2 separate regions of the Homo sapiens genome follow, and region 2 is linked to region 1. The links come from fine-mapping of genetic effects on gene expression. A gene starts in region 1. The other region holds a variant in brackets. All regions are shown on one strand. Distances are from middle to middle. Region 1 holds the start of ELP5 (elongator acetyltransferase complex subunit 5). Region 2 overlaps DLG4 (discs large MAGUK scaffold protein 4).

What was found. PIP is the estimated chance that this variant, and not a neighbour inherited with it, causes the effect.
Region 2: its variant is the best candidate, but not a certain one, in a credible set for the expression of ELP5 in prefrontal cortex (ROSMAP, PIP 0.76).

What each region holds. Positions count from the first base shown.
Region 1 is chr17:7,249,651-7,255,019 of GRCh38, reverse strand. ELP5 (elongator acetyltransferase complex subunit 5) reads right to left here and starts at 2,805. Exons shown (of 8, transcript NM_203414.3): 1 at 2,424-2,805; 2 at 2,190-2,250; 3 at 2,022-2,102; 4 at 217-437. The coding sequence starts at 2,469. CTDNEP1 (CTD nuclear envelope phosphatase 1) reads left to right here and starts at 3,286. Exons shown (of 8, transcript NM_001143775.2): 1 at 3,286-3,825. The coding sequence starts at 3,724. RefSeq lists silencers at 2,149-2,388, 3,159-3,368, 3,439-3,558 and enhancers at 2,419-2,638, 2,507-3,095, 3,096-3,683.
Region 2 is chr17:7,195,647-7,201,015 of GRCh38, reverse strand. It overlaps DLG4 (discs large MAGUK scaffold protein 4), which reads left to right. Exons shown (of 20, transcript NM_001321075.3): 9 at 3,964-4,259; 10 at 4,441-4,543; 11 at 4,682-4,796. Among named protein-coding and RNA genes, the nearest start is that of ASGR1, 19 kb to the right of the region's middle. RefSeq lists an enhancer at 3,724-4,923. The variant G/A (reference allele first, on the strand shown) is at 3,043.

The DNA of each region.
Region 1 (5,369 bases):
AACAAATGAGTAAAAAAATAACTTGGAGAAAAAAAAGCAAATGGTAGATGGCATTAAGGAGAAGTAAAAAAAAAAAAAAACAGACAAAAAAGTCAAAAAAATGAAAAAAGGTCTGACTGGAGAACCCAGATGTTTATTCTAGGGTAGAAAGGAAAAGGGGCACACTCCTTGGCAGAGGGAGATGTATGAGGGGAAACAATGAAGGAGGGGTCTCACCAGGACAAGAGTCCTGATGGCTCACAGCATGCAGGACCTGGCAGAGTGTGGTGCAGGGAAGGCGAAGTAGCAGCCAGCTGAGTGAATCGAGAGCAATGGTGACAGGAACAGGATCTGTCCTCTTGCACATGGCTCTCAAGGCTCCCAGCGGCCCCCCAGGAAAGGCCTCCTCAGTTTTTGACCAGTTGAGAGGGTCTCTGAAGAAGTCATGGTAAACCAGCCTGCAAAGGGAAAATAAGACACAATATAATATTGCCCCTTCCCCCGAGAGGATCACAAAGTTCATCCTCTGATCTTTATGGCTGTTTTCTCAATTTTTATGAATATCCTAAATATTAGTGAAAGATAATTACTGAGAGAGAGCATACAGTGATTGAGAGCACAGACTTTGGTGTCTGACAGCCTGATCTCCAAGCTTGGCTTTGCTACTTGCCCAAGGTCAGCTAACTGATACATTATTTCTAAGAGTTGCCTCATTGGTGAAATGAGATGCCAACCTCTAAGCATTCAGCACAGTGCTTGACACATAGTATATGCCTGATAAATGTTAGTTATCACCATTATCAAATATTTCCTGTGTGTGGCACCTAAAGATTATCACCCTGGGTGAAAAAAGAGAAAGCAGAGGACGTGAGATTTGGTCCTGCCTGTAGAACAGCTTAAAGAAAGTCAAGAATTAAGTCAAGAAGTAACAACTACAGAAAAAACAGCTCAGGAAAGGGAGACTGGCATAGGTAGCAGAACTTTTTTTCCCAGATATCTCTTTTCTATCTTCTCTTGTGGAGTGCCCGCTTTTTTTTTTTTTTTTGAGACAGAGTTTCGCTCGTTGCCCAGGCTGGAGTGCAATGGCGTGATCTCCGCTCACTGCAACCTCTGCCTCCTGGGTTCAAGCGATTCTCCTGCCTCAGCCTCCTGAGTAGCTGGAATTACAGGCATGTGCCACCATGCCCAGGTAATTTTTTGTATTTTTAGTAGAGATGGGGTTTCTCCATGTTGGTCAGGCTGGTCTCGAACTCCAGACCTCAGGTGATCCACCCGCCTCAGCCTCCCAAAGTGCTGGGATTACAGGCGTGAGCCACCGCGCCCAGCCATGGAATGCCATCTGAACATACACCACCGCCTCTATCACAACAATGGCTGATGCAAAATTGGAGGCTCAACAGATAAGATGTAAACTACTATTATCATCCACTGAGTTGCCGGGACTAGGAAGTAGAAAGCATCCTACTAATGGTTCTTAATGTCTCCTGATCAGGCATGCCGCTGGGTTTAGGAACTTCCTTATCTCAATACTTTCTTCTCCCCCATATTAGTCAATAAATCCTGGAAATTCTACCCACTAAAGTCCTTTACATGTGTTCTAAACTTTCCATCTCTACTGCCACTGCCTTAAACCAGGCCTCTATCACTTCCTACCATTATTCCCTAAAATTCATTAGGTCAGGAACAGGTCTCACTCACTGCCGTCTCCAGTATCTTGCACAGCACCTGGTTGATAGTTGGTGCTCGGTACATATGTACCTTAAAGAGTGAAGCCGGATTAACGGATTACTGCAATACCCTTCCCACATGTTCTCCCTATTTCCAGGCTATTTCTCTCTCGACTTCTATGATCTTTGCTTTGGACTCCCCAAATACTCATCACTCCTCTTATTAATTCTTGCCTCCTGAAAGATCCATATCCAATTCTTCAATGAATATTTAAGGAACTGCTACTACATACCAGGTTCTGCGCTTGTTGTAAAGAAATTTCCTTAGCATTATAGGTCTCAAATTTAATCAAATCTCTTCCAACTGGTACTTACCGATTGTTGATATCAGAGTCAAAACCTTCACGAAACTCTTCCTCGCTCACTTCACAGCCCAGGATATGCACTTGCTCCCCACTAAGGCAGAGATGAGAAGGGATTGTCAAAGAGTGGGCACAGGTGCCCTATCCAGGGTAGGCCGGGGAGACACTGTGGGATACTCACCACAGTGCAGATTTCTTGACAAGCGCCTTCAAGAGACTGCGCCCCTCCCACTCCACGGAATCTGCAGAGCGAGGGACGGATAAAGGGTATGAGAGCGCTGGGATTACCGCCTTCGCGAACCCGTCGCGATTTCCACACCTAGCCTGTGACCCCTGGCCCTTCCTGCCCACTTCCGTCCCCTCAGCCAGGCCCGAACCGCACCCCCCGCCCCGCCACCGTGCCTCTGGCTCTCACCCCGAAGCAGCACCAGGCCGCCCAAGGCCAACAGCGAGTCCAACATCTCCAACTCGCGTCCGGTCCCTGCTCTGGCGCCCTCTGATGGCGTCATGACCCAGTGTCCTTCCTCCTCGGGGTGAAACGGGCCGAGCACTCGGGCGTCCTCCCACCATTAAGACCTAACATAGTCTGGAATGAGAGGTGATTATGTTCAATATTCCCAGGGGGGCGCTCACGCGGAGGGCGCCCCTCCCCGAGCCCTGGCGCACAGTCGTACGGACAACGACCCCGTCTACATTTTCACTGTGACCGGGGCGGGAAGAGCAGTTGGGGCAGTTGTCAGTGGGAGGGGGAGGAGGACCCACAAGCCCCCCGCGAGGGCCCTAAGCGCGGGCCAAGTGACGTCACTCTCCCCGCCCACGCAGTTTGAGGCGGGGCCTGCTTCGCCTCAGGCCCCGCCCCGCGGCCACCTTCTGCGCGTGCGCAATACTGCAGCCTCGCTTGGAGTGCTTTTGGCTTTCCTTATACCTACCCGCCATAGACCGCGCAGGAGGAACTTAGTCCCGGTGAAGCGAATACACGTCACCACCGGAAGTAGTGTCAAAGGGGAAGAGGAGGGGGAAAGACAGGAAGAGGGAGTCCTTTGGACGGTAAAATGGCGCCTGTCAGAGTGGGAAACCCAGCTGCAGAGGCTGCAGCCCCGGTCCCCAGCGGCTAAAGGACCCCCGAGCTCGGGGAGGGGGAGGCCGCTCCGGCCCAGCGCTCTGCGCCCTCCGGCTCCCCCTCCCCCTCCTTCCCTGCTCCTTCGCTCTGCAGGCCCGTTCTCCGCTGCCGCGGCCCTTTGCGCGCCGCTGCCCCCGCCCTCCCCGTTCCTGCGAGCAGCCCCCTAGCGCGCCTGCGCAGCGGGCCACTCTCTGCTTTCCCCCCCTCCCCTTCCCTTTTCCCTTCCTCCCTTTTCCCTAGCCCCCTCCCCCACTGCCCCCTCCCCCAATTATCCTTCCCCTTCCCTCCAGGTCTCGGAGGACCCCATCCTAGCCCTACCTGTCTCGGCCCGCAACCTCCCCGAAGCCGTCGGTGCCACTCCCAGCCCATGTGGGCCCCCGCGGGCTGCCCACGCCTGTCCCCCAGCTCCCCGTTCCGCTGGGCTTTACCCTCGCCAGGGGTGGCTTTCTGAGCCGCCCGCTCCGTGCCCCTCTCTGCAGCCTCTCCTGCCACTCGGGGCCCCCGTTCCCCCTCCCGGCGGCGGGGGGCTGCCCCCGGGGGGCTGGCGGAGCTGGGCCGCGGGGGCCCCGGGGCCGGCGGTGCCGGGGTCATCGGGATGATGCGGACGCAGTGTCTGCTGGGGCTGCGCACGTTCGTGGCCTTCGCCGCCAAGCTCTGGAGCTTCTTCATTTACCTTCTGCGGAGGCAGATCCGCACGGTGAGCCAGGGTGGGCGCTGGCGGTGTTGGGGACGTCTGGCGGTGTTGGGGACATCTGTCCGTGGTGCTCAGGGGTTTTCGGAGTGTCGGGCCTCTGTTTGGGCCTAGGAAGGGAATCCTGGCTGGGGCTTTTCTCGCCAGAGAATTGGGCACCCTAAGCGGGGCGAGGTGGGAGACCCTTGTAATAGAACCTTGCCCTTGGGGGTTTTGATGGGGCTAGATGGGACAGGATTTGGCAACTCTTGGGGGCTAAGGTGGTGGGTGGGGCGCTCTTTAAGAAAGCTGGAGTTGTTGCTAAAGAAACCAAGAGGCGGGGAACACCTGTTTGATGACAGCCGGATCTGTGGATGTGGGCTTGGGAAAGACCCTATTTGGAACCTCGGTGTGTGTTTGGTCCTATAACAAGGAAGAGACAGACTTGTGTGTCAAGGGTGGAGGTGGGTGGGAGGGCATACGTTACAAACAAGGACGGGAACTTGGGAAAGCCCTGGGTGTGAAGGAGAAACGCCTGCGGTTCCCATTAAGAGAATTCCTCCAAAAAGGCTGTGAAAATTTATTTCATAGTGTGAGTGTAGGTATCTGGATTTATTGAAGACTAAAGCAGATGCTTTTACGATGGGCCTCTTTAATTGTGGGAGGGAGTTCAAGGTGGGTGCTGTGCCCACCATTGAAGTTTGGGTGTCCCTGTCAGAGGACAGCGCTGGGCAGTTGTAGGGCTTGAAAATGAGGACGTTTGCTTCTCCAGGAGAGCCTAGCATTCTGAGGGAAACTGTCCGGATGGACCCAAGCATCTCTGGGTCCCCTCTCCCTTAGCTTTTCTCCAAGGTCAGAGGTCCTTCAGCTAACAGCACTTTAAATGAATGTGCTCTTGTGGTCTCACCACCACCAGGGAGAATCCTCGGAAGGAGTCTGGGGAGAATTTAGTAAGCGGAGACACAGGTTCTGGGTCTGTACTGTGGTCTGTACCCCTTAGCATACCTCAATACAATTTGAAAGAATAAACCCAGGTTGGGGTGACCTGGGGTCCAGAGAATTTCCAGAAAGCCCTCAGTGGTAGTGGTGGTTGATTTAACTGATTTGGGAGAATGGGTCTGGCCTTGGGTTCATTCTGTCCTTTACCAGTCTGCTTCCACTTCCTGATTTAGGGCGCGAACAGTACAGGATGGTTGTGGCTGTAGGCAGCAGCGCTATTCCCCCGAGACAAGAGCTAGGAGCCAAGAAAAATTTAGGGTCAGAGATGCTGGGATATGTGTGGGGCTATCTCCTGGGGTTTTCTTTTCTTTTCTGAGACAGTCTCGCTTTGTCGCCCAGGCTGGAGTGCAGTGGTGCCATCTCCGCTCACTGCAACCTCCACTTCCTGGGTTCAAGCGATTCTCCTGCTTCAGCCTCTCGAATAGCTGGGATTACAGGCACCTGCCACCACACCTGGCTAATTTTTGTAATTTTAGTAGAAACGGGTTTTCACCATGTTGGCCAGGATGGTCTCAAACTCCTGACCTCAAGTGATCTGCCCGCCTTGGCCTCACAAAAGTACTGGGATTGAG
Region 2 (5,369 bases), 54 kb after region 1:
TGGTGGCGAGCGCCTGTAATACCAGCTAATCCTGAGGCTGAGACAGGAGAATTCCTTGACCCTGGGAGGCGGAGCTTGCAGTGAGCCAAGATCTCACCACTGCACTCCAGCCTGGGCGATAGAGCGAGACTCCATCTCAAAAAAAAAAAAAAAAAAAAACCAAAACAGGCTGGGCGCGCCGGTGGCTCATGCCTGTAATCCCAGCACTTTGGGAGGCCGAGATGGGTGAGTCACCTGAGGTTGGGAGTTCGAGACCAGCCTAACCAACATGGAGAAACCCCATCTCTACTAAAAATACAAAATTAGCCGGGCATGGTGGTGCATGCCTGCAATCCCAGCTACTCAGGAGGCTGAGGCAGGAGAATTGCTTGAACCTGGGAGGCGGAGGTTGCGGCGAGCTGAGATCGCGCCATTGCACTCCAGCCTGGGCAACAAGAGTGAAACTCTGTCTCAAAAAACGACAAAAAAAAAAAGGAATGTGGCTATTTGTAAGATAAATAACAGGAATTAGTAACTTCCCAGCAATAAGAAAATGTAGTGAATAAAAAGCCCCCTTTTGCCATAGAAAAAATTTCTATAAAATTATTAGAAATAGAAACTTGACAAGAAATGTAAGATTTGTATGAAGAAAATGACAAAACTTTACTGAAAGACATAAAACAAGACTGGAAGGGGTGAGGAGTCACACCGTGTCTCTGGATGGAAAAACTTAATATGCTAAAGATCTCAACCGGCTCCAAATTAATCTACATTCCATTCAATCCTAATCAGAATTTTAATGTTGTTTCCCTACTGGGAACTTGGAAGGTTGACACTAAAGTTTGACTGGAAAAATTTGTGTGGAAAAGCTAAGACATTTTGGAAACAAATAATGAGGTGTGGCAGCCCCTACAAAATATGAAATAATACTGTAAAACCATATTAAAATCATGTGGTACTATTCCTAAATACCATAACCTAACAAAAGGAACCTGGGCTCCTTGGAAGAAGGGTCAATTTAAAATCTTTTTTTTTCTTTTCTTTTTTTTTTTTTTTTGAGACGGAGTCTCGCTCTGTCGCCCAGGCTGGAGTGCAGTGGCACGATCTTGGCTCACTGCAAGCTCCGCCTCCCGGGTTCATGCCATTCTCCTGCCTCAGCCTCCCGAGTAGCTGGGACTACAGGTGCCCACCACCACGCCTGGCTAATTTTTTTGTATATTTTAGTAGAGATGGGGTTTCACCGTGATAGCCAGGATGGTCTTGATCTCCTGACCTCATGATCCCCCCACCTCGGCCTCCCAAAGTGCTGGGATTACAGGCCTGAGCCACCGTGCCCAGCCAATTTAAAATCTTTGGCAATAAATCTGTAAGATGAGCTTCTAACTTCTTTCATACTAGAGAGCAAGGAAGGTATCCAGGACTAATAGGGTCTCAGCAAAGACACAGGATCCAAACTGAAGGTGCTTCTACTGTCCAGTGAAAACTCGTTAAATATATTAAAATCTTTAAGATCATAATAATACTTAAAAATATTTTGGCTGGGCGCGGTGGCTCATGCCTGTAATCTCAGCACTTTGGGAGGTTGAGGCAGGCGGATCACCTGAGGTCAGGAGTTCGAGACCAGCCCGCCCAACATGGCGAAACCCCGTCTCTACTAAAAATACAAAAAATTAGCCAGGCGTGGTGGTGGGTGCCTGTAATCCTAGCTGCTGGAGAGGTTGAGGTGGGAGAATCCCTTGAACCTGGGAGGCAGAGGTTGCAGTGAGCCAAGATCGCACCACTGCACACCAGCCTGGGCGACAAGAGTGAAACTCCATCCCAAAAAAATAAATAATTAAAAAAAAAATTGGAGGATGCTAGGCAATCTCATTCATTCTGAAATTGGTGAATGAATGGAAAGAGGCATGCAGAGAGAGGCATGCATTTATCCTCCCTTTCATGTACCAGCTACCTCAGAGAGTAACCAACAGGTTGACATAGGGCTGTTTTTTTGTTTTTGTTTTTGCTTTTTTTTTGTTGGAGGCAGGTCTTGCTTTGTCACCCAGCAGGCTGGAGTGCAGTGGTGTGATCTTGGCTCACTGCAACTTCCGCCTCCTGGGCTCAAGCGATCCTCCCACCTCAGCCTCCCGAGTAGCTGGGATTACAGGCGAGTGCCATCATGCTCAGCTAACTTTTTTTTTTTTTTTTTTGAGATGGAGTCTCACTCTGTCACCCAGGCTGGAGTGCAGTGGCACGATCTTGGCTCACTGCAACCTCTGCCGCCCGGGTTCCAGCAATTCTCCTGCCTCAGCCTCCCGAGTAGCTGGGATTACAGGGCCCTGCCACTGCGCCCAGCTAATTTTTGTACTTTTAGTACAGATGGGATTTCACCATCTTGGCCAGGCTGGTTTTGAACTCCTGACCTTGTGATCCACCTGCCTCGGCCTCCCAAAGTGCTGGGATTACAGGCGTGAGCCACTGCGCCCAGCCTCAGCTAACTTTCAACTTTTGTCTTTTGTAGAGATAGGGTTTCACCATGTTACCCAAGCTGGAGGAATTTTTTTTTTTTTTTTTTGAGAGGGAGTCTCGCTCTGTCACCCAGGCTGGAGTGCAGTGGCACAATCTTGGCTCCTTGCAACCTCCGCCTCCTGGGTTCAAGCAATTCTCCTGCCTCAGCCTCCCGAGTACCTGAGATTATAGACGTAAGCCAGCACGCCCAGCCTATTTTTGTATTTTTAGTAGAGACGGGATTTCACCATGTTAGCCAGGCTGGTCTCAAAGTCTTAACCTCAAGTGATCTGCCTGCCTTGGCCTCCACAGTGCTGGGATTACAGGCATGAGCCATCGTGCCTGGTCGAGATTTTTCTTTTTTACAGAAGAATTCCCACTAGTAAATGACAATCACCACCATTTTGCAGTCCTTGATACTTATCAGAACCAGGCGGTGATTGTCAGTGTGGCTAAAACTTACCTGAAAGGCTGATGGGGCGCTAGATAATGGATGGACTGGGCTGATGACCCTGAACCTACCATTAATCTTACCTGACAGAAAGACAACCAGGCATTATTGCATCCTGTGGTGAT[G/A]CTGTAGGAAGAACGTAGCGCTACCTATGAAGTATACAGGAGTTACTAAAAAAAACTCTGAATTGAACTTGAAACTGATCAAGCCTCCAGAATGAACTGCCAGTTTACAGGAGATACAGGGGCAGAGGCATAGGCTAAACAAACCACAGGAGGGTAAGCAGTAATTTCCCTGTTAGAATTTCCCTCATAGGCTGGTCAAGGTGGCTCATGCCTGTAATCCCAGCACTTTGGGAGGCATAAGCGGGTGGATCATTTGAGTTCAGAAGTTCCAGACCAGCCTGGACAACATGGTGAAACACTGTCTCTACTAAAAATACAAAAATTAGCTGGGCATGGTGGCGCGCGCCTGTAATCCCAGCTACTTGGGAGGCTGAGGCATGAGAATCACTTGAACCTGGGAGGCAGAGGCTGCAGTGAGCCAAGATCACGGCACTGCACTCCAGCCTGAGACTCCTTCTCAAAAAAACCCCAAAAAAACAAAAGAATTTCCCTCATAGAATGTGGGAAATTCTTTTAGACAAATGACCTAGTTTTTTCAACGAATGGATGGCAGAGAGGTGGGGGGAAAAAAGAGGGAGAAGAATTTTATGGATTAAGAGATTCGAGTGACACAGGAACCCAGAGAAAACCCCCAAAGCGTAATATTAATGCTCCCTTTGACTTCCCCATCCCTGGCATACTGAGGACATATAACGTTCAAATCCTTTATCCCCTAGGACAACCAGCCTCTGATGTCACCTATAAATTCCTGACCCCTGATGTCACTGTGATCTGATATCCCCTTACCACCCCACCCTGGCATCTCTGGCAGAATATCTTCCCTTCCACCTAACTTTGGCTCTTCTGGCACCCTGGGGAGAAGGTTGGGTGGCGGGTGCTGTTTCCCTCCAGGCACTTTCATCTCTGCCCTGTCTTCCTCAGCTTATTCCCAGCACCTGGACAATGAGATCAGTCACAGCAGCTACCTGGGCACCGACTACCCCACAGCCATGACCCCCACTTCCCCTCGGCGCTACTCTCCAGTGGCCAAGGACCTGCTCGGGGAGGAAGACATTCCCCGAGAACCGAGGCGAATTGTGATCCACCGGGGCTCCACGGGCCTGGGCTTCAACATCGTGGGTGGCGAGGACGGTGAAGGCATCTTCATCTCCTTTATCCTGGCCGGGGGCCCTGCAGACCTCAGTGGGGAGCTGCGGAAGGGGGACCAGATCCTGTCGGTGAGGGAAGGCCTGCCCCTACCTGCACCACCCCCTCCCCACAGGGCAGAGCGCAGAGCTCTTGGGGAGGGGCCTGGATGGGCTGCAGCCGAGTCCTCTTGCGGGACCACTCCCTGCTCCACCTGGACCCAGAAGTGCTGCCTCCTGTCTCTGGTGACACAGCCTGTCGTCCTCTCTCTAGGTCAACGGTGTGGACCTCCGAAATGCCAGCCATGAGCAGGCTGCCATTGCCCTGAAGAATGCGGGTCAGACGGTCACGATCATCGCTCAGTATAAACCAGAAGGTACCAGGCCGGAAGTTCCTTGTCTTGTGAGCTGAAATGGCCCTTAGAACTCTTCCTCAGCTGATGGCTTCAGTAGGGGAGGACAGGGGTGACAGTAGGATGGGGACAGAGCTCAGAAACCTCCCTGTCCTTCCTCAGAGTACAGCCGATTCGAGGCCAAGATCCACGACCTTCGGGAACAGCTCATGAACAGCAGCCTGGGCTCAGGGACTGCGTCCCTGCGGAGCAACCCCAAAAGGGGTTTCTACATCAGGTCAGAGGCTTCCCGGGCTGGACTCCTCAGCCCCTCTGCGTTCCTGGGCACTCTGTGCCTGGCCCGGGCCTCAGCCGCTCCTCTTCTCCACCCTGCCTGCTCTAGCTCCCCACCCCAGGCCTGAGGCGCAGCCAGGGTTCATGGGCTTGGCTGCACAGGTTAACATTTGAAATACTCCCTGTCGATGGGAAAATAGCCTCTGCCCCAAGTATCCCAATTGCCTTCTAGCCCCTGGTCATCCCAGCACTTCCCCGGGACTCCCAGGCCACCCCACAATTTGGCGTCTCGAAGGTTAATGCTTGGTGAAGCAGGGTCCTCTAGGGTATTTGGAGTGTTGCCCCAGCCTTCACGTCCCTGTGGGCAGTCCCGGAGACGTGGGCCGCAGCTCTGTGGTGCCTGCCCCCGTCTCTCCAGCGGCATTTTGCTCCCCTCTTAGGGCTCGTCTCCATTGACTCTTTTTGTGGCTTAGGTTTCTGCCAAAACACACCTCTCTCCCGCCCCCGGGGGTCACCCCTCCACTTCTGTCCCTGTCTGGCCCTGTGGCTTGCATGGCCTCGTCTGCCGCTGCGCTCT